7 linked regions of the Homo sapiens genome follow. The protein of the gene in region 5 purifies or fractionates together with the protein of the main gene of each other region. This does not show direct contact. Each region holds a gene or a part of one and is shown on either strand. Other genes may lie near its edges.

The links.
Region 1: the proteins of HOMER1 (region 5) and PRPSAP1 purify together in Homo sapiens (affinity purification with mass spectrometry; one large-scale study listed by BioGRID and IntAct). This does not show direct contact.
Region 2: the proteins of HOMER1 (region 5) and TRPC1 purify together in Homo sapiens (affinity purification with western blotting, with the first as the bait; one study listed by BioGRID). This does not show direct contact.
Region 3: the proteins of HOMER1 (region 5) and CDC42EP4 purify together in Homo sapiens (affinity purification with mass spectrometry; one large-scale study listed by BioGRID and IntAct). This does not show direct contact.
Region 4: the proteins of HOMER1 (region 5) and KIF5C purify together in Homo sapiens (affinity purification with mass spectrometry, with the first as the bait; one large-scale study listed by BioGRID). This does not show direct contact.
Region 6: the proteins of HOMER1 (region 5) and TRPC5 purify together in Homo sapiens (affinity purification with western blotting, with the first as the bait; one study listed by BioGRID). This does not show direct contact.
Region 7: the proteins of HOMER1 (region 5) and PALS1 purify together in Homo sapiens (co-immunoprecipitation; one large-scale study listed by IntAct). This does not show direct contact.

The regions. Positions count from the first base shown.
Region 1 is NC_000017.11:76,329,917-76,333,416, forward strand, and holds part of PRPSAP1 (phosphoribosyl pyrophosphate synthase-associated protein 1), read right to left. Parts: intron 2,520-3,500; coding exon 2,347-2,519; intron 751-2,346; coding exon 635-750; intron 183-634; coding exon 127-182; intron 1-126. UniProt on the Homo sapiens protein: Seems to play a negative regulatory role in 5-phosphoribose 1-diphosphate synthesis.
Region 2 is NC_000003.12:142,783,034-142,786,533, reverse strand, and holds part of TRPC1 (short transient receptor potential channel 1), read right to left. Parts: intron 1,831-3,500; coding exon 1,494-1,830; intron 1-1,493. UniProt on the Homo sapiens protein: Forms a receptor-activated non-selective calcium permeant cation channel. Forms a heteromeric ion channel with TRPC4 or TRPC5 that has reduced calcium permeability compared to the homomeric TRPC4 or TRPC5 channel.
Region 3 is NC_000017.11:73,305,502-73,309,001, forward strand, and holds part of CDC42EP4 (cdc42 effector protein 4), read right to left. Parts: intron 1-3,500. UniProt on the Homo sapiens protein: Probably involved in the organization of the actin cytoskeleton. May act downstream of CDC42 to induce actin filament assembly leading to cell shape changes. Induces pseudopodia formation, when overexpressed in fibroblasts.
Region 4 is NC_000002.12:148,881,727-148,885,226, reverse strand, and holds part of KIF5C (kinesin heavy chain), read right to left. Parts: intron 1-3,500. UniProt on the Homo sapiens protein: Microtubule-associated force-producing protein that may play a role in organelle transport. Has ATPase activity. Involved in synaptic transmission. Mediates dendritic trafficking of mRNAs.
Region 5 is NC_000005.10:79,399,135-79,402,634, forward strand, and holds part of HOMER1 (homer protein homolog 1), read right to left. Parts: intron 2,922-3,500; coding exon 2,765-2,921; intron 1-2,764. UniProt on the Homo sapiens protein: Postsynaptic density scaffolding protein. Binds and cross-links cytoplasmic regions of GRM1, GRM5, ITPR1, DNM3, RYR1, RYR2, SHANK1 and SHANK3.
Region 6 is NC_000023.11:111,767,511-111,771,776, forward strand, and holds the end of TRPC5 (short transient receptor potential channel 5), read right to left. Parts: 3' UTR 501-4,266; downstream 1-500. UniProt on the Homo sapiens protein: Forms a receptor-activated non-selective calcium permeant cation channel. Mediates calcium-dependent phosphatidylserine externalization and apoptosis in neurons via its association with PLSCR1.
Region 7 is NC_000014.9:67,303,935-67,307,434, reverse strand, and holds part of PALS1 (protein PALS1), read right to left. Parts: intron 1-3,500. UniProt on the Homo sapiens protein: Plays a role in tight junction biogenesis and in the establishment of cell polarity in epithelial cells.

The sequences.
Region 1 (3,500 bases), on a different chromosome or scaffold from region 5:
GAGGGGTTAACATGAGAGCCAGTGGGCTTTCAAAGGCCACGAGTGACAGCCTCTGGATTCCAAAGCAGCTCATTCTGACTTCGGGAGCACTCAGGAGGGATCAGGACCCATGTCTAGCTTACTTACCTCTTTGCAGCATCAGGAGACTTAGCTACAATGACTGCATTTCTGTAATTTGGAATCTAGATTTGAAGGAAAAATAGAAAATACTGAAAAGTTATCAGAAAATAACACCTGGATGCTGGTATTCAAGTTTTCCCTCTTATAATGATCCAAACTAGTCATCAAATATGCTAGAATTTTAGTCACAAGTTTTAGATTTTTCAATATTTATCAATTAACATCACTGGAAAAAGCACTCCTACGTCAAGAATTTTTTAAAAATAATTCTTAAAACATTCATTTTAGAAAACATAAGCAAATTGCTAAAGATACGTAGAAAAAAAATCTGTTTTTAGTGTCTTTTAAAGCTATGATCGTCCACGACTAAAGCTGACCCTGTCTGCTGCCTCAGGCATTGTGACTTAAGGGAGAGCTCATTTGATGTGCCTTCCAGTAACGAAATCTGATACCAGAGAAAAACTAAATAAGATCTCTTTTGAGGACAATGGGGTGTTTGCTGGTGGTTCCTCACTTCTTCCTGGATATACTGAAGCAGGAAAGGTGAGGCTCTAAGGTTGTCCACAGGAAAGCTGAAAAAGCCTTGTATTTCCTTTTGATGAAGATCCATAGTGATAATGTGAGTTAAACCTGAAATTTTAAAACAAAAAATTACAAAGTTCACCCCTACAGGTAAATGGCTACAGTGGACCTAAACTAGATGCTCAACTCCTGCTTCCTACCAGCAGACTGAAGACGGGGTACTGTGATTAAGCACTGCAGTCACAGGCTTGATTGTTAACCTTAATAAAGCCTTAATGTAGAGAAGGCTACAACCTTCCACATGGACAAAGAACTAAAGCTAAGAAAGTGGGAATTATTGACTTTTGGCTTGGTCCAGAAAATTGAGAAAAGAATAATGTGGCAGAAGCAAAAATATGAATATGGAATTAATACCGAAGAGATGGAAAAAACAGTAAGGCCTTGATTACAGAATCTTAAAAGAAAGGATAAAGAACTGTAGCGAAGGCAAAAAGTAGCAAGAACACAAACGCAAAGTAATATACATATTAGAAGAAAAGAAACTCATATAACACAAAGATATTGAAGCTTAGAATAATTTCTGTATGTAACAAAGAATGTTTCAAGTATTCTTATAGAAAAACAATGAAGAGATACTCTTATAATCAAGAGTACTGAAGAGGAAAAGGTACATATATATAAACACATTGCAAATGGTCAAAGGTCACAGCAAAACTTCCAGGGTGTAGAACCAGTATTACTTGTTCTTTCCAGAAACACTATAGTTTTTTGGAGAGGATGAAATTCACATACAGTTGACCATCTGGATCTATGGGTTCCACGTGTGGATTCAACGAAACACAGACTGAAAAGGTAGTTAGGCCTACAATGGTTGTGTCTGTACTGAGCAGGTATGAAACTTTTTTCTCATCATTATTCCCTAAACAAGACAGCATAACAACAATTTATATAGTGTTTATATGGTATTAGGTATTTATAAATAATCTACAGATGACTGTGTTGGTTATATGCAAATACTATGGCATTTTATATGGAAGACTTGAGTATCTTTGGGTTTTTGTATCTGCTGAGGAGCCGGGGAAGCGGGAGATGGGTTCCTGGAACCAATCCTATAAGGACATTGAGGGAGGACCATACATTTCTTTCCGAGGACCCAAATATACGTTAAAGTTTTAGAACAGACATCAGATGAATAGAAACCCAATTGTAAAATATTACATTGATTTACAGGCCAGAAAGCGTGCCCCCGCCACACAAGGAGAATAAAGCAATGAAAATGAGCCACTATGTAGAAAGGCAAGGGTGGGGGAGAGGGAGTAAAAGAAAATCCAGCTTGAATACTATGAACAAAAATGGAATTTAGCTAACAAAGCAGATATAGAAATCTAGACCTGAAGATCAAAAGATCACATAAGAATGCCAAGACTGCCAGCTAAGAATTTAGCGATGACAAGATGAAATAGAAAATATGTGACAGATGACAGAGAAGAGAAGACACTAAAGCAATGGTATTCTAAAGTAGGACAAAGCGAATAAGGGAAAAAAAAGAATTTCTAACCGAGCTCACATATCCTTAGCCAAAACTGTTCAAAAGGAAACAAACACTCAGATCCCAGATTGGATATCTGAGGTATGAGCTAAGTCCAACTAGGAAAGAGCCCTAAAGGATCATGCTGGAACCCCAGGGCCCCCGCGCACACTCACCTGCTTTCGCCAGCATGGATGCTAGCAGCTTGCACACAATGGAACCCCTCTTCCTCATCTTGCTCTGCTTGCTGTAGGGGAAGTAGGGGATGACCCCAATAATGTTCCTGGCACAGGCAGTCTTCAGTGCGTAAGCCATGATGAGCAACTCCATCACAGCTGTATTCACATCTCTGAAACAGTCAAAGTTTGTATTTGGGGATTAATTCCATGTATCAACCCTAGAAAAGATCTTGACTTTATCAACTTAACATGGGCTGCCCAGATGGGTGTTGTGGGAATTTTACCATCACACTAGCTTACAATGGCACCTCATGAAGGCAGGGGAAGCTTTCTGACTTTTTGTAGCTGAGTAAGCCCTAGCTTTCATCTGAGGTTACTCCTATTCACAGCACAGTTAACCCACCCTCACATTTGCCTGGGTCTCCTGTGTCATACCCCGTTACTGCAGTGACATCTGAAGCAACTGCTGGTGACCAGAGTTACCCAACACCTGCTGGCAGCCTCCCAGGGATTTGGGCTTAGGCCAGCTTGAATGCCAAGGGAAACCCAACTGCCCTTCCATTTAGCTGCCATTAACAGAAAGATTTGGTCTCTTTCCATTGAGTGTGGGGAGGTCTTGGAATATAATTTTTTTTTTTTTTTTTTGAGACGGAGTCTCGCTGTCGCCCAGGTTGGAGTGCAGTGGCGCGATCTCAGCTCACTGCAGGCTCCGCCCCCCGAGGTTCACGCCATTCTCCTGCCTCAGCCTCCCGAGTAGCTGGGACTACAGGCGCCCGCCACCTCGCCCGGCTAATTTTTTGTATTTTTAGTAGAGACGGGGTTTCACCATGTTAGCCAGGATGGTCTTCATCTCCTGACCTTTTGAGATGAAGTCTCACTCTGTCGCCCAGGCTGGACTGCAGTGGTGTGATCTCAGTTCACTGCAACCTCCGCCTCCCAGGTTCAGGCAATTCTCCTGGCTCATCCTCCCGAGTAACTGGGATTATAGGCGTGCACCACCACACGTGGCTAATTTTGTATTTTTAGTAGAAACGGGGTTTCTCCATGTTGGTCAGGCTGGTCTCGAACTCCCGACCTTAGGTGATCCGCCCACCTCGGCCTCCCAAAGTGCTGGGATTACAGGCATGACCCACTATACCCAGCTGGAACTT
Region 2 (3,500 bases), on a different chromosome or scaffold from region 5:
TTAACAAGAAGGAATTATTTAATTCTCTTTAACCTAGAGTTTAGATGTGTATTATTTTATCTACCTAATTTTAAACATTAATGCATCATAGATTAAATACTGTTAAAAGCAAAACTCTAATTACAATCTAGTTACCTGAAATTAACTGATTTTCAAATAAACATTCTAAAATATAAAAAGTATTTGTATAGCTAAAGAGCTAAAATTGAACATTGTGAAATAACTTATGAAAGTACTAAATAATTGAAACAATCAGGAATGTAGTAATCAAAAGATAAATACACTCAGTACTTTGTGCCATAGATAAGACTAAATTTTATTACCCTTTTACTCTATAGCAAATAGTAGACGGACAGATGGGAAGTGCTGAGGTTAAAAACAAGGTAGAAGATACAGAGGGAAATAAAGAAAATATCTTTAAAATACCATAAACAGATAATGTGATTCTACCTCAACTCTCCACACGCACCCCGACACACAGAAGGCAAGACGAGTAAAAATTGTAGAAGATGATTTAAGACATTTATTATACAGTGTAATACTTATAAAAATAATTTTCAGGAATAAAATGTCTTATACTTTTTAAAAAACTATCATTTCTAAAGAGATCTGGCTATCTCTACAAAGAAATGATTTATGGAATGAGTCACCAGGGACTCCTTTAAATCTAAATTTAAACAATGTTTCCAAAATAGAGATAAAGCAAGATATATCTGCAAAAGTTCATAGGTTCTAGGCCGGGCACGGTGGCTCAGGCCTATAATCCCAGCACTTTGGGAGGCTGAGGCAGGAGGATTACGAAGTCAGGAGTTCGAGACCAGCCTGGCCAATGAAGTGAAACCCCATCTCTACTAAAAATACAAAAATTAGCCAGGTGTGGTGGCACGCACCTGTAATCCCAGCTACTGGGAGGCTAAGGCAGGAGAATCGTTTGAACCCGGGAGGCGGAGGTTGCAGTAAGCCAAGACTGTGCCATTGCACTCCAGCCTGGGCGACAGAGCGAGACTCTGTCTCAAACAAAACAAAACAAAACAAAACAAAAACCAAAAAGCTCATAGGTTCTTAAAAGGAAAACTAATGTTATAAATGAAATAGAATAGTTAACTTTAAAAATGCACAACAGTATAAAATAGATTGTTTCAAAATACCTAAGAAAACTTCATATTCTTACACCAAAAAAGCATTCATGTGTTAAAGCTGATTTTCTGTTTTACAATCATGAATAACCATAGAGTCTGAGAATAAATAATTTTAAAATTCCATGTATTTAAGAAATATTAAATAAGAGAGATGCTTCCTTATCATCAAGTTCAGGAACATTTATCTTTACAGACATGTTAGTTAAGTCTTCAGTGATCATGGAAGTGTTCAAATTCTTGTGGTGTGAACAGTGTAAAATTGCAAATTGAACCCAATATTCACAATGCCATCAATCAAGAAAGAATCAGTGGGCTAAATAAAGACAAAACCTTTCAAACTAACTTGATACTTACCAATAATCCACAGAATAAGAAGATAGTCTATTCTTTCAAGGGCTGGCCCCATTGTGTTTTTCTTATCCTCATTGTAGACAAGAGAGTATAGATTAAGCAACAGCAGAAATGTGAAATATGATGCTCCATGAATGATAAATTTCATAAAAGGTGTGTGAATGATTCTGCCAAACTGAGATTTGGGAGCTATCAAATAACAAAGTGACAAAACTGGCCAAAAGATGCCTACTGTCAAAACAGTCATTATCTTCTTACAGGTGGGCTTGCGTCGGTAACCCGACATCTGTCCAAACCAAACAGTGTTCAGGAACTGCTGGCAGTTAGACTGGGAGACAAACTGAAAAGGACATACACACACATTAAAAAGAAAAAAAGTAAAAGGAAACCTTTAAATACTGATTGGTTGATATTCAAAGTTTACTGAATAAGAGTTTAAAAATCAATTCTATACATTCAACATAGTTTTGTTTTTTCCCTTTTTCTAACAATAAAAGCATGTAGAGGTTAAGAGGATAGACTATGGAGCCAGATTACCTAGATTCAAATCTGGGCTCTGCTACTTGGTAAATGACCTTTAACAAGTTTTTAAATTTCTCTAAGCCTCAACTTCCCCATCTGTAAAATGGGAATAATAATAGTATCTACTAATAAAGTTGTGAAGATTAAAGGTAAAGCCCTCAGAATAGCGCCTGGTTCATAGCATGCACTCTATAAGTATTAACTATTATTATTAGCTTACTTAGCCATTTTTTCATGTTTAATATATAAAAACTCATAATAATATTTATGAAATTTCAAAGTTATCATGCACAATCCATAGAAAAAGATACCACTAACTAATGTTGGACATCTTCAGTCTAGAGAAACTATTGATTTTAGTTACCAGAAGCCAAGAAGTCAAGATAGCAAAAACAATAAAAAGCTAAATATTAGACCTATTCTTGCTCCAAGAAAGCACTGCGGATTTCTTAAAAGGTATTAAAGACACTCTTAAGCCTGATTAAAACTGAATTTCATGTGAGAAGAAAGGAAAAATATTCCCAAATATGAGAAAAATTTTAGTTCAGGTACAGAAACTAATTTACCAAAGTTTACAAATCTTCTTAGTTGACAAATTTCATAGGCAATATTTTTCCAATATAATGCTCATGTTGTGAAGTATAACTTAAGGGTCCTGATAATTCTATATATACTCATGTGATCAGGTTTGAAATTATTATAAAATGACATTATTCAGGTAATCCACAATAATATTTGGTCAACCTTCTGTTTTAAAATGATTTATCCCAAAACAGAATATAATTTGTAGAATTAACACTGTAGTGAAAAAAAGAATTGGACAGAGTTTTGTTGTTTATTGTGCTTTCAAGAAAATTTCTAGTATACTGTAGAGTTGGCCCTCTGTATCTCTGTGTCCTACATCTGTGGATTAAACCAACCATGGATCAACAATATTTGGAAGAAAAAATTCACAAAGTTCCAAATAAGCAAAACTTGAATATTCTTCACAGCAAGTACTATGTTGAATCCACATGAATGAAATGATGTGTAGGCACTGTATTAGGTGTTATAAGTAATTGAAAGATACTTTAAAGTATATGGGAAGATGTGTGTATGTTATATGCAAATACTTATTTTTGGCAATACTTCATTCTTTACTCTTCTGCTCAGATTCCAATGTTCTTGGGAAATCTTAATTTGTCCCTCAAGGTGAAATGCCTGGGAGAGAAACAGCTTTTCCTCTCACCAATGACCAGGTTTAGTAAATCTCAAATTTAGTAGTGTCACCTTTCCTCCAAATATCAAAGCAATCTCAGGACTGATTACTGTCCTTGCTATCCCTCTATACAATGACAATTTAATTTGCAGTAATGTTAACTATGTATTTGGAATAAAAAGTTTAACTAGAAATGTTCTAAGTCTGCAGTGAAAGATGGACACGCTTTCTTCCCATCATCAAGAGGTGGGGAAGGAGGAAGTCAAAATTTCCTACTCTTCAATTCAACA
Region 3 (3,500 bases), on a different chromosome or scaffold from region 5:
GGTCTCCAGGAGACTGGCAGATCTAAACTCCCTCCAGAGCAGACAGGCTAATCTTGCATCTTGGCCCTGCCGGAAGTTGGGGACAAAGAGCCCCACTCCCTAGGTCACAAGGTGGCCTGCCACGTGGGTCAAGTTATTTGTGCCTCAGTTTCCTCATTAGCTCTCAGAACAATTGATAACATTACATAACTCCCAAGTGCTGTGCTCGGGTGAGCACAGTTCCATGTGTGCTATAAAGATGATGCTGTCACACCCAGTGACACTCCAGCCACTGTCACTTCGCAAACTTCATAGAGAACAGCCACCTGAGAGCACCTAATTCAAAAGTCTGTACAGTGAAACGTGGGCTGAGACAATGGGTTGACCCTTTTCAAAGTCCTGGGGGTTCCCAGGATTATCTGATGCAGGGGGAAGGGTCCCCCAAGCTGCTGAAGCCCAGGTACAGATTCTGCCCTCCCTCTGTAGTCTCTGCCAGCAGTCGGGGGCAGGAAACCCTCGGATCTGGTTTCTTTCCTGATCTGAGTTCCCTCATCCCGTCACCTTTTAACCTTTAATGATGCCAGAAGAAGGAGCCTGGCTTCTCTCAGACAAGATGGTGAGGTGGAGGTGGGAAAAGAGAAGCTCCTCCATTCCTTCCTAGGATAAGGGTAAAAGTAACTCAGGAATTTGCCAGACCCCGGGTGCTACTAGCAACAAATAATGCACAGGCCAGGCACCGTGGCTCATGCCTGAAATCTCAGCACATTGGGAGGCAGAGGCAGAAGCAGGAGGATCGCTTGAGCCCAGGAGCTTGAGACCAGCCTGGGCAGCACAGTGAGACCCTGTCTCTAAAAAAAAAAAAAAAAATTAAATTAGCCAGGCATGGCGGCACACGTCTATAGTCTCAGCTACTCAAGGCTGAGGTGGGAGGATCTCTTGAGCCCAGGAGTTTGAGGCTGCAGTGAGCTGTGATTGCACCACTGCACTCCAGCCTGGCCAACACAGCAAAAAGCCTGTCTCAAAACAAAAAAATAATGCACAAAACTTCAATATGATCAACCCCCAATAAAATATAATCTGATCTTTTGGACCTAACCAGATTCTCCTTAGAGGTAACCACAAATCGTACTGCGAGCCCCTAGGCTCTTTTTGGGCTCTCTTGGGCTCTCTACTCCTTGTACCACTTGACAAAGCCTTAAGCCCAATTCCAGGACTTGAGGGGAACAGGTCCCTTTCTGATGCTTCAGGGTTGGAGGCAACAGTGTAAGGAAATAAGAAGGTTGCACTGAGTGAAGACCCGAGGTAGAGAGGAAGGACAGGCAGGAAAGAGAAGCCAGCACACAGAACCTGGCTTTGTTGGCACACTTGGAGAGATTCAAAGCTGGGGTCTCCAGACCAAGTTCAGTGACTGCCAGAACTGCAGGTGTCTGGGCAAAAGAAGAACCCAGAGTCTCATGCTGGGAGGTGGAGGCTGCCCCAGACAACCTCTGCTACCGTGATGGCCAAGGCAGAAGATGGTGGCTGAAGCAGCTCTGGCTGAGCACAGACATCCAGGGATCCTTCTTGCCTGGCACTGTGGTTTTTCCAGATGCCTTCAGCTCCATCTTTGGGGTGAAGGGGAAACACCAGGTGTGCAGAGCAGTTTCTTACAGGTGGGGAACTGTAAGCCTTCATTAATGACCACACCCTAAACTGTGCTCACCTGAATCCCAAAAGAGAGACCCTTCCTCAGCTTGAGTGGAGACAGCCAGTTCCCCTGTTCCTGGCAAGGGAGGGCTTTGGATGCCAGCACTGCCATCCTGGCACAGAGCCCAGAGCTGCAAGCTGGCAGTGCCTGGGGGAGACTCCAATGTAAGTTAGTTGGAAGGAAGCCCAAGTCTCCTCAAGAAGGCGTATTTTAAGCTGGAGCTTTCGGGGCACGGTGAGCGGGAATGTGGGAGACTAATGTCTGAATTTTTCTTTCTTTCTTTTTTTTTTTTTTTTTTTAGACGGAGTCTCGCTCTGTCACCCAGGCTAGAATGCAGTGGCGCGATCTCGGCTCACTGCAAGCTCCGCCTCCCGGGTTCACACCATTCTCCTGCCTCAGCCTCCCAAGTAGCTGGGACTACAGGCGCCCACCACCAAGCCTAGCTAATTTTTTGTACTTTTTAGTAGAGACAGGGTTTCACTGTGTTAGTCAGGATGGTCTCGATCTCCTGACCTCCTGATCCACCCGCCTTGGCCTCCCAAAGTGCTGGGATTACAGGTGTGAGCCACCACGCCTGGCCCTGAATTTCTCTCTTTTTTTTTTTTTTTTTTTTGAGATGGAGTCTCACTCTATCGCCCATGCTGGAGTACAGCAACCTCCACCTCTTGGGTTCAAGCGATTCTTGTGTCTCAGCTTCCCCAGTAGCTGGGATTATAGGTGCACGCCACCATGCCCGGCTAATTTTTGTATTTTTAGTAGAGACGGGGTTTCACCATATTGGCCAGGCTGATCTCAAACTCCTGACCTCAAGTGATCTGCCCGCCTTGGCCTCCCCAAGTGCTGAGATTACAGGCGTGAGCCACTGTGCCCGGCCCTAATGTCTGAATTTCCTTCCCAACGCACTCAAGCAAAAAGGGCTGTGTCCAGTGCCACATGCGGGCTCCTTCCAGCACTACCATCCAGTTCCCTGCCGAGAGAGGGCACGCATGGGCTTGGCCTTCCTAGAGCACCCCAGAAGCACTGGCTGGAGTTGGCCTTCAGGACACTCTGCCGGATGACCCCTCAAAGTGTCCCCAGCTCCAGAATTTGGTTCTTTTCCTCACGGTCGGGAAAAATCCTCCAGTACGTAGGTCAGAAGAGCTACGCAGAGCTCAGGTCAGCTCTGTTTCCAGGGCGAGATTGCTCAACCCTTCTCCCTCCGCCCACAGGCCTTATCTCTGGCATCAACCCAGCTCCCCATTCCTCCAAGGGACGGACTCCTCCCTCCCCCCACAGGGACAAACTCCTCTGAGTCTGCAGAACCAGAATGAGAACACAGAAGGCTGGACTTACTGCTAACCAAGTGCAACCCTGACCACTCTGACTTCTGACTTCTTCACTTCGAACCCAATCCAAACGTAGGGGCGTGGGGTGGGGGAGAGTGAAAGGGAGAGGCCAACATCAAACACCTTTTGGCCACACCTGCGCACAGACAGTCCGGGCCGCAGAAATCAATCAGTCACTCCAAAGGGGTGGAAGCCCTGGGCCACTGCCAACCCAAGGCCCTTCTGGAAAAGCTCTGGACTTGTTAAGAAGGGTTGGCCAGGGCTGGGTGCAGTGGTTTACGCCTGTAATCCCGGCTCTTGGGGAGGCCGAGGTGGGTGGATTGCCTGAGTTCAGGAGTTCGCGACCGGCCTGGGCAACACAGTGAAACCCTGTTTCTACTAAAATACAAAAAAAAATTAGCCGGGCGTGGTGGCATGCACCTATAATCCCAGCTACTGCAGAGGCTGAGGCAGGAGAATTGCTTGAACCCGGGAGGTGGAGGATGCAGTGAGCCAAGATTGTGCCACTG
Region 4 (3,500 bases), on a different chromosome or scaffold from region 5:
ATTGCTCGAGCTCAGGAGTTTGAATCCAGCCTGGGCAACATGGTGAAACCCCGTCTCTACTAAAATACAAAAAATTAGTCAAGCATGATGGCACGCGCCTGTAATCCCAGCTACTAGGGAGGCTGAGAATTGCTTGAACCTGGGAGGCGGAGGTTGCAGTGAGTGGAGGCGGAGGTTGCAGTGAGCCAAGATCGTGCCATTGCACTCCAGCCTGGGAGACAGAGTGAGAATCCGTCTCAAAAAAAAAAAAAAAAACAATTAGGACATGGCCATTGTGAGGGGGGGATAGGCTGGGAATCTTGCTTAGCCCTGATGGCCCCGTGTGTGCTTCTACCACCACACCTGACTCTACACTAGACAAGTCTATCATGGCAAAAGGCTCCTCTTGTTTCAAGGTCAACATGTATGAGCATTTCTTTCTCCTTGCTGGAAATGAACAGTACCTAGCCTTCTGATTTGAACAAACCAACTGCAAGAAGAAAAGTAGAACTGCCTGGGTATTTGATAGTAAGGAATTACTGTTAATATTTTATGTGTGATAGTGTTATTGTGGTTATGTTAAAATTAAAGAGATACATATTGAAGTTTGTGGATCAAAAGATATGAGATGTTAAGATTTCGCTTTAAAGCAATCTAGTGAGGTTGGAGAGAAAGGTTAGGAGAGTATACAAAAAATAAGATTGGCCATTTGCTGATCATGGTTAAAACTGGTTGATAAGTACTTTTTTTATTCTTTCTACTTTGGTGTATGTTTGAAATTTTATATAATAAATTTTCTAAAAGAGTCTAGGAATCAAGGGGGGAGAGAAAAAGCAGTCCTGTCTAAGGCTTCTCTGAGGGGGCTGTTTTTTTCCTTTCTCAGCTTACCATTGCCCAGAAGATATCACAGGCCATTCAATGTGAGCACCAAGAAGAAAGGGTATATCCATCCTATTTTTCTCTAAGACTACAGTCTTGGCCTCTGTCTCTGTCTGCCTCCAGAGAGAGATTTAGCTTTTGATCACCTCCAACAAACAACATCCTTTAGGATATTGAAACTGACAAAAGACAGCCTACAAAATCCTATGGTTTACATTAAAAGTCTGAAGGCATTGCCATGTTCCGGATCTGGGGGTTAACAGTGCATGACGAAGCACATACCCTCAGTAAGAATTTAATTTAGCTCGAATATGAAGGGATGCTTTATGAGACAAACTGGCAGCAGTTCCATGGGGTGAGCAGAGAAGTGAGACTATAAAACAGAAGACAATTTGCTATTTCTAAATTGCTCCCTCTCAAAAACTGTGGTGGGTGTCTTAAAATCATCTCGTATATCCTTTTACCCAGTAATCTCAATTCTAGGAATGTATTCTAACAAAATAATTGGGCAAGTCCACAAGGAGGTATGTGGACTACTGTTTATATCATGCCTTTGTTTATAATAGGAAAAAAAAACCAACAGAAAAACAAAGGTCCATCAGTAGGAAATAAAGTATTGATTAGGCATATAATGAAATTATATGCAACTTTTAGAATGCTGAAAAAGTATAGTACATTAGACTTCAGACATCAGCATTTAGTTTAGTATACTATACTATTAAGTAAAACAGTTTTAAAATAGATTTTATAAAATATCTTTGTTTTAAAACAAAGTGTGTTGTAAGAATAGAAAAGAACTAGAATATACAATAAAATGTTAATTATCGTGTTTTCTGGTTAGTAAAATTAAATGTAATTTTTTTTTTTTGAGACAGAGTCTCGTTCTTTCGCCCAGGCTGGAGTGCAGTGGCACGATCTCAGCTCACTGCAAGCTCCACCTCCCAGGTTCACACCATTCTCCTGCCTCAGCCTCCCAAGTAGCTGGGACTACAGGTGCCCGCCACCATGCCTGGCTAATTTTTTGTATTTTTAGTAGAGACAGGGTTTCACCATGTTAGCCAGGATGGTCTCGATCTCCTGACCTCATGATCCACCCACCTCGGCCTCCCAAAGTGCTGGGATTACAGGTGTGAGCCACTGCGCCTGGCCAAAATGTAATTTTTACCTTCTTTATGATTTTTTGCATGGTCTAAATTTTCTTCACTGAGCAGGCAACATATTGGGACCCCCACATATACAAAAAGAAGCTATTTATTTTAAGAGAATAATAACAAAACCATAAAGATGTCTAAAGGAGGAAAGACAAATTGCCAGAGCTGGACAGAGGTCAAAGTGACAATCCAAGCAAATAACCCCAAACTCTGACAGCCAAGGAGGGTCAGCACCCTTTCACTTTTTTCAAAAGACGTCTTATACTGAGCAACTACTCTGTTCTAGGCCTTGTTCCGGGTCTTGGAGACAGAAATAAATGGGACACAATTTCCTGCCCTCAAGGTTTTCAGCCTAATTGGAGGAAAGGACAGATTTACCAAATAAATGAAATGCTCTACTGGGGAAGGGCAAAGTACAGTGATGCTTAGGGGGAAGGGGCTGATTCCACCTGGCTGGCAGAATGGGGAGACAGGGGCTGATCAGAAAAAGTGTCAGAGGAGGTATTGTGGGCTGAGAGTCTAAAGGCGAATGGATGCCCTTCCAAAGCTCACAGGCCATGCAGGTGAGCTTTGAGGACAGTCTCCCCAGGCATTTGGGTTGATGTGAGCAGCTGAGGGAAAAGGGATGGGCATTGAGCAGCCTAATCTTCTTGAGGGGGAACAGAAGCACAGATGAAATATGGGGTGAGGAGTAAGGCTAGGGAGTAGGCAGGCCCACAGTATGGAGGGCCTGGAATGCCCCTACTGAAGCATCTGGTTTCCAACCTGAGGGCACAGGGGAACCTCTGAAGGGTCTGCACCTTCCCAAGATTAATCAGCCGGACAACAGTGTAGAGAAGTAAGCACTACTGGGCCTTATCTGGATGCCTGCCGTGGACTAGCCACTGGGCTTAGCACACAACGGCCCTAGACAGTGGAGAGTGTTGTTATCTCTATTTTACGGGTGAGAAAACTGGAACTCAGCGTGGTTTAGGAATTTGCCCAAGTTCTCACAGATAAGAAGTGGCAGAGCTCAGAGCTCAGAGTTCATCCTGGCTATCTGACTCACCCTCAGGTTCGGTGCTGTGAAGACGCCACGGTGAATCTAAAATAGTTTTCTCCCGAGTTCTCCATGATATTTACAAACAACCTCAAACTCAACCACTCAATTCCTACTAAGAGGAACTTGGTTGACGTGCAGCAAATGGGTTATGGGGAGAGCTTTCTCAGCCACAAAATTAGAACTTTATGAAAAAAAACCTGGAAGAAAGTAAGGTGAGACTGGATCTGTCAAGGGGCTTTATTTTTTTGAACTCAAGAGAAACCATTAGGGAGTAGGCAATTTGTTTTTGCTTTTTTTTACATAAGTAGACACAGGTGGGAAACTGTTTAGACGGGCTCACATCACCCCATAAACAAATAGGTTTGGTCCTAGCCTTTCTATTAGCTCTTAGTAAGATTACACATGCAAGCATCCCCATTCCAGTGAGTTCACCCTCTAAATCACCACGA
Region 5 (3,500 bases):
AACAATTGCAAATTGTGGGCAAAATGTAAAAGTCAACTGTTTGAAGGACCTGGTGAGTAACCAAATTGGGCAAAAGACTGCAAGAAAGCAGTCACTTTGGGTGATTTCCACATCTTTTTGCCTGAAGGTACTCTGCAGTCTGGCTGCATTGCTTGACTGAACAAGCAGAAATCCATAGTCTTATTTCTCTGAGAAGCCTGAGAATTTTAGGACTCTGCAGAACACCTGGCACAACTAGGAGTAGGAAAAGAGCTGGAAGGCTGAAAGAACTAAACTGCGATGGTGCTCAACAGAGATGACAGTTTGAAGTTCTGCTAGTCCCTGCTAAATTAGAGGGCCTTGGTAAATACCTCAAGCTTTGCAGTGAAACTTTGGAAAGGGTTATGTCTTAGAGATAAAGATTTCCTAGGACAATGTGATTTACCCTAGGGTTACAGCAAAATTGAAATACATGAATTCTAACAAAGCATAAGTACACAACTCCACAAATTCAAGATAATCTCCAAATAACTGCCTGTTGAAACAAAAACTCAACATTATTCAAAAATAACAAAATCTGTGGTCTCTACAACATCTCATTTGCAATGTCCAATACAAAATTAAAAATGACTAGTCATTTTTCTGAAAAAACAGTAAAATGTAACTTATAATCAAGACAAAATTTATCTAAATAAAAGTGGAGATAATTTGTTGGCAGTACACTTGGAGTACAAAAACTGCTCAAGGAGGTTATTCAGGCTGAAGGGAAACAATACCTGATAGAAATTCAGATCTACAGGAAAGAAGCACAATGGAAACTGAAAATATGTGAGTAAATAAATATATTATGTTTCTTAAGTTCTTTAATATTCAATTGACTATTTAAAGAGAAAATTTCTTAAGGGCAGAGATTACACAATAAGGAGACATGATAGCTCCTTAATATTTTCTGGCTATGACAATTGTCATAAATTTTTTTTTGTGGTAAAAAACATATATCATAAAATTTATCATCTTAGTCATTTTAAGTGTATAGTTCAATAGTGTTAAGTATTTATATTCACATTGCTGTGAAACAGATCTCCAGAACTTTTTTAACTTGCAAAACTGTAAGTCTATACCCATTAAACAACTCTCCTTTCCCCCACCTCTCTTAAGTTAATTTTTACACACAGGATAGAATAACATTTACTCAAGTTTCTAACATTTCCACTCTGTCTCAACTGCATTTCCTTTTCTTTCTTTTTTTTTTTTTTTCTGAGATAAGGCCTTGCTCTGTTACCCAAGCTGGAGTATGCAGTGGCGTGATCTCAGCTCACTTTAGCCTCTGCCTCCTGGGCTCAAGTGATGTTCCCACCTCAGCCTCCTAAGTAGTTGGAACTATAGGGACATGCCATCACACCCATCTAATTTTTGTATTTTTAGTGGAGATGGGGTTTCACCATGTTGCCCAGGCTGGTCTTGAACTCCTGGGCTCAAGCAATCCATCCTCCTTAGCCTCCCAAAGTGCTGGGATTATAGGTGTGAGCCAATGTGCCCAGCTTGGAATTTTTTTTAAAAGGAGAAATTAAAGGCATCTGTTGGGTGAAGCACTTCTATGCCTTGAATTAAAAAAAAAAAAACTTCTTCTTTTTTTTTTTTGTTTTTTAGAGACAGAGTCTTGCTCTGTCACCCAAGCTAGAGTGCAGTAGAGCCATCATAATTCACTGCAGCCTCCAATTCCTGGGCTCAAGCAATCCTTCCCACTCAGCATTCCAAGTAGCTAGGACTACAGGCGTGTGTCCCCATGCTTGGTTAATTAAAAAAAAAAAAGAAAAAAGATTTTTTTTTTTTTTTTTTTTAATGGAGATGGGGTCTTGCCATGTTGCCTGGGCTAATCTCAAACTCTTGGCCTGAGAGCATTAAAACACTTTACAAGTAATTATCTGGGCTTCTGATATTAATGGTATTGAAATTTCTGGTTTTCTTTTTCTGCACCAAATCTCTAATATTACCAAAGTTAATAATTTTCTACTTGTATTTTTCAAATTGTTCCTTCTTTAAAAAGAAAATAATAAAAGCAGCTCATTGACTCACTGCAACTCATTGAGACAGTGCAATTACACGGCACTTAAGTGTCTCAACAAATTTTCATAGGAATTGTACAGAATACATACTTTTGACTCAGTGCAACTACATGCCAATTAAGTATTCAATTAATCTTCACAGGAATTGTACAGAGTACTTATTATTCCTATTTTACAGATGAGAATACTGAGCTGGAAGAAGGAAATAACTTATCAAAGATCATACAGATAATAACCGGCAGAACTGGAATTCGCACTCTGGAATACTCTGGTCTTGTAAACCAGAAATGGAGAATCCCCTCCCCAGGACAACTCAGGAGAAAAGCATTCCCGCTTCACCGTCAACACCCAAAGCTAAAATTCTAATTAAACTACTCCCTGAATTTTTTCTCAGCACACACTTTAACTACCATGTCAGTACTAATCAACTAGCACTAATACATTAGTGCTTTTATGTACTTGTGCATTACTGCTAGTCCCCATGGATAATATGGGGAATCAACATGGTTTGTTGACTTCAAAAGGCGTATATTCTTCATTCTCATTAAACTATGGAAAATATTTTTCTTAATCAAACAAATGCATATCATACAACCCATATCTATGTTCTGACATCCTAGAACTAGAAGATATCCCTGTGCTGAATCTACATGCAAATTTCTTCTGATCAAGAAAACCTGTTAGCCCTAAATCCCTATAGACATCAGCCCTGAAATTACCCGCTTGTGCAGACGTTCTGCTTCCTCTTGATAGGCAGCAAGTTGCTGTTTCCATTGTTTCACATTGGCAGTGGACTCCAGCAGGGCTGCAGTGAGTTTGGCATTATTTCCTTTGAGGGTAGCCAGTTCAGCCTCCCAATGTTTGCTGATTGCTGAACTAAAATAAAACAAAAAGAAAATTCTATCCATTACACCAACTACTGTTACCTTGAAGGGACAGCAAGACTCAGTTCTATTGTAGGGTTTATAGTCTAAGAATGTTTTCTTTTCTTTTTTTTTTTTTTTGAGATGGAGTCTCGCTCTGTTGCCCAGGCTGGAGTGTAGTGGCGCAATCTTGGCTCACTGCAACCTCCGCCTCCTGGGTTCAAGCGATTCTCCTGCCCCAGCCTCCTGAGTAGCTGGGACTACAGGCACACGCCACCATGCCCAGTTAATTTTTTTGTATTTTTTTAGTACAGACGGGGTTTCCCATGTTGGCCAGGCTGGTCTTGAACTCCTGACCTCAGGTGATCCACCTGCCTCAGCCTCCCAAAGTACTGGGATTACAGGCGTGAGCCACTGTGACCAGCCCTAAGAATGTTTTCAAAGACAACCTCAAAATACTAAAAAACACAAATACTTTACCAAAATATTCCTAGTAAAGAAAACCTGGCAAGTGAAGAAATATAAAAAGTACTCAAGTACCAGGCTTAACGTGGAATGTTTCCAACCTTCATTATGACAGATACAGTTATCT
Region 6 (4,266 bases), on a different chromosome or scaffold from region 5:
GAGAAACGTCAACTGATTCTGGAATTATTGCTCAGATGTCCTCAGATGACACTGGTTTAATCATGACCAGCTTAACCTCCATTTATATGTCTTCTCACTGTCTCACAGATTCCAACTGTTCTATGCAATATGTATCATACTTTTAAGTACTCAATGAAGAATAATTAATTTCCAGGATTGGGCCTCTAAGGTTTTTCAATGTTGTAAGCTATAGCTTTAAAACTGTATTGGTCTCTTTACTTCATCTCATAGTTCTTATAAATTATTATTAAATTCTTAAATACTAGTCAGCTTTGTTTAATGGAAGATATAAAAATCAGAATATTTATTCTCATATACTTTTCAAAATATATTGGACTGTGGAGGTCTCCCATTAGTGTTTCTGCTAGGCAAATTACATTGTGAAGTCTTTTGTTCATAAATGTTAATAATAGGTGGCTACGAATGATTACACTGAAAAAGGGAGGAACATAACACCTTAAAATCTGAGTTGTCACACATTTCAGGGGAAAAAAGTAAATACTTTATTTTGTTGATACTGAAGCTAAAAATACACAAAATTATTTTATTGTACAAGATTCTTTTTAATACATTAAGATTGACACTGTGCACTTACAGAAAGTGTTTAAATAAAAGTGATAGTTATTCAAAGAGATTTCCACTTTGAAAATAGTCTTCAAAGCCAGTGTCATTTACACAGACACATTTGGAATTTTCCCTTTTCATGATTATGCTCAAGATGTATCATTTTAAACTGAAATTTGACACACTTTCTATATGGTGATATGTGGTTGGGGCTGCCAACTAGGCTTAGAAGGTGAATTACACATAGCTCGTATTCTCTAGTATTCTCCTTCCTGCTACCAAATGTTAGTTTGTAGCTGCAGACTGCATTCATTGTTTTGAGTAGAAAGAAACTCCCATCCCTAATTTCAACCCCATTTTTGAGAAATATGGAATAAATAGAATCCTGTGAAGAGTTTAACTATTGTTCTGTTGAATAGTACCTCTGGTGTGCATTCCTATTATAAGAAACAAACTAAAATGTATTTGCTTGAGAAGGATGTGTTTATCCTTATCTGAAGTGTCCTGGGGAAGGTCTGTGTCTTTACTGTTGAGATAAGATACAGCTTTACTTTTACTTTGTTAAGGTAGTAATTTGAACACTTAATTTTAAAGTTAATTTATCGAATTGAATTTCCTTTTACATTAAACCACAGACTAATGTGTTAACCCTTTGGGTTTAGAGGACTCTTCATGTGCTCACATAATATTCATTTTGGTGTCATTGGTCCCACTTATCCTGTTAAGACACTTGAGAATTCTGGCTGCTTCTCCTGCCCACGTACACTAAGCACAGTTATCACTGATTTATTGGACTACAGGTTACTTTGCCTTGGATATTTAAACTGATTGCTTAATATGTTTTACAAGGAGGTCCTACAAGGTGTGGCCACAACATGATGAGGCTATACTTTAAATACCATGACTAGATCTTATACAGGAAATACTTAATCTGAATATGTGACTTTCAAATGACCTGAACACATTCAGCTAGCTAGCTGCCATCTTCCTATTAGAGTTTCTTTCCATTGCTTCTGCCACCGTGGGTTCTTATGAGTCCAAAATCCTCCCCTCTGTTCTCTATGGAGGTTAGTGGTTTTTCTTTACTGTCCCTCTCCCTGATAACAGCCTAGTCACCAGAGCCTCTGTGCTATACAATGTCATTTCTTAAGGATCAAATAAGTTTGAGGAGTCAATTCTGAGTTTATTTACAGCATAAGCCATTGGAACTCAATGTATTTTACTGTTTAAACACAAAGGGTTAATCATTATGGTTGTTCCCAAATCAGTGAAGCTTCTCTATCTAAATATATTGCTCTTTAAAGTGTTCTCTTCAGGAGGCTATGTGCTTATTCATGTAAGGCTACCACTGCTCCAAGCATAATTGAAACTAGATTCCAGGATACAAAGGAGAACAAGCATTCTTGAGGGGGTGATGGAGATATTCTATAACTTGATTTTGGCTGGTGCTTCCAGGGGTATATACAACTCTGAAAACTCACCAATTTGTACACTTTAAATGAATGCAGGTAATTGTACATAAATCATTCCTCAATAAAGTTAATTAGGGGAAAAAAACTAGATTCCCAAGAACAGTTCCAGGTCCCTTACAAATCCCACAAGAGACAATCTCATTATTTTATAATTGCACCTATCAAAGTGCCTATTGTGTAGTAGCACTTGAAAATGTTTTTTGTTTGTTCGTTTGTTTGTTTTTAACCAGAGAAAGTGGTACTCATCTTGACTACCACATGTTTTACCAAGTGTGGATCTAAAATTACTTTTGGCAATTTCTAAATTCCTAAAAATTTAATCTTATAGGATCATGATTTTCTACCATTGAGGATATTCAGAGATTGTACTGTGGACTTTGAAAGTCATTTCAAAAGCAGAAGTCCAAAGTGGGTAGAGTAATGGCAGCATCATTAGAATATGGGTATGGCTTTTTAAGGTGACTACTTTAAAGGACCACGTTCATTTGGGTGCATAAGTTCTGGTATGTTTATGAAAATATCAGTCATTATCCTATTTTATGTTTATTCCAAATTTATGAGGCTAAAAGATGACAGCAGATACATAATCTGGCTTTTTGCCATAGTGCCCTTCCTTACCTTTCATTTCTCTTTCATGTTGTTTTGACAAACCCACTTTATTTCTTAGATAAAATTTGAAGGAAGTGATCTTTCCAATTGGCTAAAGTGTACATATTTATGAAAGCCCATCTGTGATATTGCATTATGGGTGTGGTGTGTTGAACTTATATTTACAGTGATCCCAAGGTTGAGAACTTGTTAACATCTGAAATTTAACCCAAATATGACCCAAAATTTGAAAAATGATTTACCGGTAGTTCTGCTTTCATATATTGTTGCATTTTTTGAATTTCATTAAAGGAGAAATGATGATGCTAATGTTTTAATTAACCATTTTAAATTATATTTTTAATTCAGGTTATTCATCTCAATTTGGCCATCCAAAAAACTGACAATTTGGTGGTTTAGCCCCGTGTTTTAAAGTGTATATCCTCACTCATCCTTACTTCAAAAGCTTTTCCAACTGTCTCTTTACTACACTATCACCATCTAAGTTTCCCAATCCCAGCAAAAATCCAAAGCCTCCTTTCTTCCTTCCAAGGGTCAGCTTTAAGAGTTGTGTAAGAGCGGAGAACTGTCAAGAGGGTTCCTAGGTTGGAAGGCAATTGGTGGCAATGAGTATTTTGGGGATATATTGAACTTCTGGGAAAAGATACAAAATGGCCAATCCCAGCTTAATTGTACTTTCAAATGGCTGGCTACCTTAGGCTTAAATAAAAGGCACACTGCCACATATTCATTCAAGTGCCACTAAGGACAGTGCCTTTTGTGTGTATGTATGTAAGCTCCTGGGATGTTAGGTTGCCCCAAAACCTGCTAAAGTCAAAGGGCAAATATGCTGAAAAATGGTGAAAATGACCTTCACGTTGCAAGTCATTCTAACCTACTTCAGTTAGTCTTTTTTGGTTCTATCAAGTCACTGGAGTTATAAAGAAAGTTCTTTGAGGGGGAGGAGGGTAGGACAGATACATGCTACTTTCAGGGATGTATGACAGTTGATTTCAATGATCAAAAGTTGTGGGCTGTTTATGTTCCTACAGAAATTGTTTGTCATTTATTTGTGTAGTAACAGGAAGCCTCTAGAGCTTTCACATCTTTTCACATCATATAAGAAAACTAGCTTTTTGGCATAAGGGCATTCCACTTAGTTTTATGTTTAAATATTATAATTCTTAATATGTATATGTCTCTCAGGTACCACAAACATTGATGGTATATCTTTAGAAAAAGAATGAACACAACTCAGATCCAGTAATCAAGTACAAGATACAAATCCACTCAAGTTGGGGATAACACAAATACTGAGCCTAAAGATGCTAGAGCACACTGGCTTGCTGCCTCTATCATTCCAGCAGTTAACTCTGTTTCTTAAACATTACATTTTCTAAAAGTAAAGCTCTCACAAAGCACCCACTAACACCTCCTCTGGATCACCACACAAAAGATGAAAATCCTAGGCCACGTACCAGCATATGAATGAATATTAACACCTCAAGTATGCACCAAATCTCAGGTATACAGTAAATCTGAAGTATGCAGACTGACTTTATTTTGCCAAAAATGTGTATATTTAAGTCTTCCAGGTAAGTTATTCTGACCTAAATGCTTT
Region 7 (3,500 bases), on a different chromosome or scaffold from region 5:
TCTGTAACTAATAAGCGATGTGATCCTTCTTCATTTAAATACACTCCTTGTTAGATTATGGCATTAGACTAAATGAAAAAGTCCCATTCAGATAAAAGTCTATTATGCCCTCCCTACATATTATTATAGTATAGAATAATCTAAAGTTTTACAAACTAGTCTGGGAAATCCAATCCTTCCTTTTTTTAAAAAGGCCGAGAGAAGGAAACTGTACGTTTGAATAATGTATGCATTTCCTAGATCAAATGTGCCAGTTACTCAGGAAGTGAAATACAGAGGTGCCAAGACTCTTGCCCTCTGCTACTGAAAGAGCAGCCACTGATTGCTATGTGTGATACAAAAGAAATTTAAGAACTCAAGAGAGCACTTCTGACACAGCTTATTATTGCCATACATGACATCATAATTCAACAAGTCATTATATAGGGGTTTCAGATAACACTTATTTTGTATATCTGTCTTAAACACATTTCTAACATCACAAAACATAAATCAGGAAGATATCTGCTGCTGCTGCTATCAACAGATGCTGACCTGTACCATAATGATACTCAATAAATTGGTTCTAATTTCTTTAGATTATTAATTCCATAGATAATTATTCTGCATATGTCAACCAAGATTATGATTTCCTATTACTGTTTCCTTTCTGGACAGCCTCAATGAGCTTTAATAATAGCAGTTCATTTTAAGCCAGTTAGGTCTGACAAAACTTGGCAAGATATATTGCAATTGAGAGTTATTCATAATAAAAAGAGAAAAGAAGGGGCTGGGCATGGTGGCTCATGCCTGTAATCCCAGCACTTGGGAGGCCAAGGTGGGCGGATCATCAGAGGTCAGGAGTTCAAGACCAGCCTGGCCAACATGGTGAAACTCTGTCTCTACTAAAAATACACAAACACACACACACACACACACACAAATTCAGCCAGGCATGGTGGCGGGCGCCTGTAATCCCAGCTACTTGGGAGGCTGAGTCAGGAGAATGCTTGAACACAGGAGGCAGAGGTTACAGTGAGCCAAGATCGCACCACTGTACTCCAGCCTGGGCGACAGAGCAAGACTCTGTCTCAAAAAAAACAAAAAACAAAAGAGAAAAGAAGGAAAAGAAAAATACTGCACATCACTCTATTCTGAAAAGATCCCTACTTTAAATATGAAAATAGGCCGGGTTCGGTGGCTCATGCCTGTAATCCCAGCACTTTGGGAGGCCAAGGCGGGCAGATCACCTGAGGTCAGGAGTTCGAGACCAGCATGGCCAACATAGTGAAACCCCATCTCTGCTAAAAATACAAAAATTAGCTGGATGTGGTGGCATGCACTTGTAGTCTCAGCTACTAGGGAGGCTGAAGCAGGAGAACTGCTTGACTCTGGGAGGCGGAGGTTGCAGTGAGCCCAGATGGTGCCACTGCTTGCCTCGGTGACAAGAGTGAGACTCCAAGTAAAAAGAACAGAAAAAGCTCCATTTTAAAAGGGATAGATGTGGCATTTTGCTCTTTCTCCCACTTTCTTCCTTTTTAAGCTACTTCATTTTCCAGTTAAGTAGTTCCAGAGATTGTTCACCATGAACCTATATTCCTTTGGTCTTCAGATTAAACCAGCCTTTTATTCTTAATCAATAATGAAAGTTGGGGGTTAAATAACCACTAAAGGATAAGTAAGTTATTTCATTCTTAGGTTGAAACAATCTGTGTAAGTTAATTGCTTTGATATTCTGTTTTGCATACAACGAGAATCAACAAGTTTCAATGTAACACTTCGATTAATTCTATCCATGAAAAAAATGGCTTTTCTTTTACAGAATTCCAGATTCTGCATGAATAGCAGGAAAAAAATGTTGAGAAAACATGTCTTGGCTGGGCATTGTGGCTCACGTCTGTAATCCCAACACTTCGGGAGGCCGAGGCGGGTGGACCACTTGAGCTCAGGAGTTCGAGACTAGCCTGGGCAACATAGTGAAAGCCATCTCTACCAAAAGTACAAAAAAATTAGCCGGATGTGGTAGTATGCATCTGTGTTTCCAGCTACTAGGGAGGCTGAGGTAGGAGGACTGCTTGAGCCCAGGCAGTCAAGGCTGCAGGAGTCGTGATCACATCACTGCACTCCAGCCTGGATAATAGAGCCAGATCCCACCTCAAAAAAAAAAAATGTCTTAACTTCTGACATTTATTCTCAAAAGACAAAAGTCATTTACTCAGGAGGGATGGATTATTGTAGATAAGTAAGTAGGAGTATATTCCAACCCTCCTCTGTTATGTTTCCTCAGTTTGCAGAGCTACTTTTGAAGTTCAGGGCTTATACACAGAAGAGATACAGGGAACAGCACAATGCACAGAGAATCAAGCTGTTTAAATTCAAAGACAAACTATATTTCCTCATTTCTCTTCCTGCAAAAAAACTGTAAACATAAAGTAGGTTGCAGATACAATATCAACTTCCGTATGTTCTGTAAAAAATTAAGGGAAAACATGGAATGATAGCCAAACTATAAAGCATACCTGTGATGAAATATTGAGAGAAAAATGAAACTGTGTTCTTTCTCAAACTGCTATGCTTTAAAGTTAAGAATAACAGATGCAATACATCAAGCTTCCATGTTAATTCAACACTTTAAAGTTTCATTTTTAAATAGCTTTATTGATATATAATTCATATACAATTCACTCATGTACACAATTGGATGGTTTTAGTTTATTCACAGATTTGTACAATTATCACCACAAACAATTTTAAAACATACTTATGCCCTCAAAAAGAAACTTGGTACTGATTAGTAATCACCATTCCCTCATAAATCCTCATCTCCACATCTAAGGAATTACTAATCTGCTTTCTCTCCTATGGATTTACCTATTCTGGACATTTTATATAAATGAACCAATATATGGCCTTTTGTGACTGGCTTCCTTCGCTCAGCATAATTTCTTCAAGGTTCATCCATGTTGTAGCATATATCAGTACTGTAGGCTTTTAAAATTATCAAATAATATCCCATCATACATACATATTTTGTCTTTGATTCATCACCTGACAGACATTTGGGTTGTTACTACTTTCTAGCTACTGTGAATGCTGCTGCTATGAACATTCATGTAGACATTCTTATGTGAATATATGTTTTCAGTCCTTTTGGATATATACTTTGGAATGCAATTGCTTGACTGTATGGTAATGGAGACTGACTTTTAACAGATCTAGCTGAGTAAATGTCTAACAGAACAATATACTCTAAAAGAAGGGTTACACATACTTTTTAAAAAGCACTTGCCCTACTCCATACTAAGTTAAGTAAACCCACCTATAACTATAAAAAAAATTCTGAAACTGAAATTATTTTCTACTTTTTATTTTAAAAAGGTGCAGAGTTGGCTGGATGTGAAGGCTCACACCTGTAATCCCAGCACTTTGGGAGGCCGAGGCAGGCAGATCACATGAAGCCAGGCGTTCAAGATCAGCCTGGCCAACATGGCAAAACCCTGTCTCTACCAAAAATACAAAAA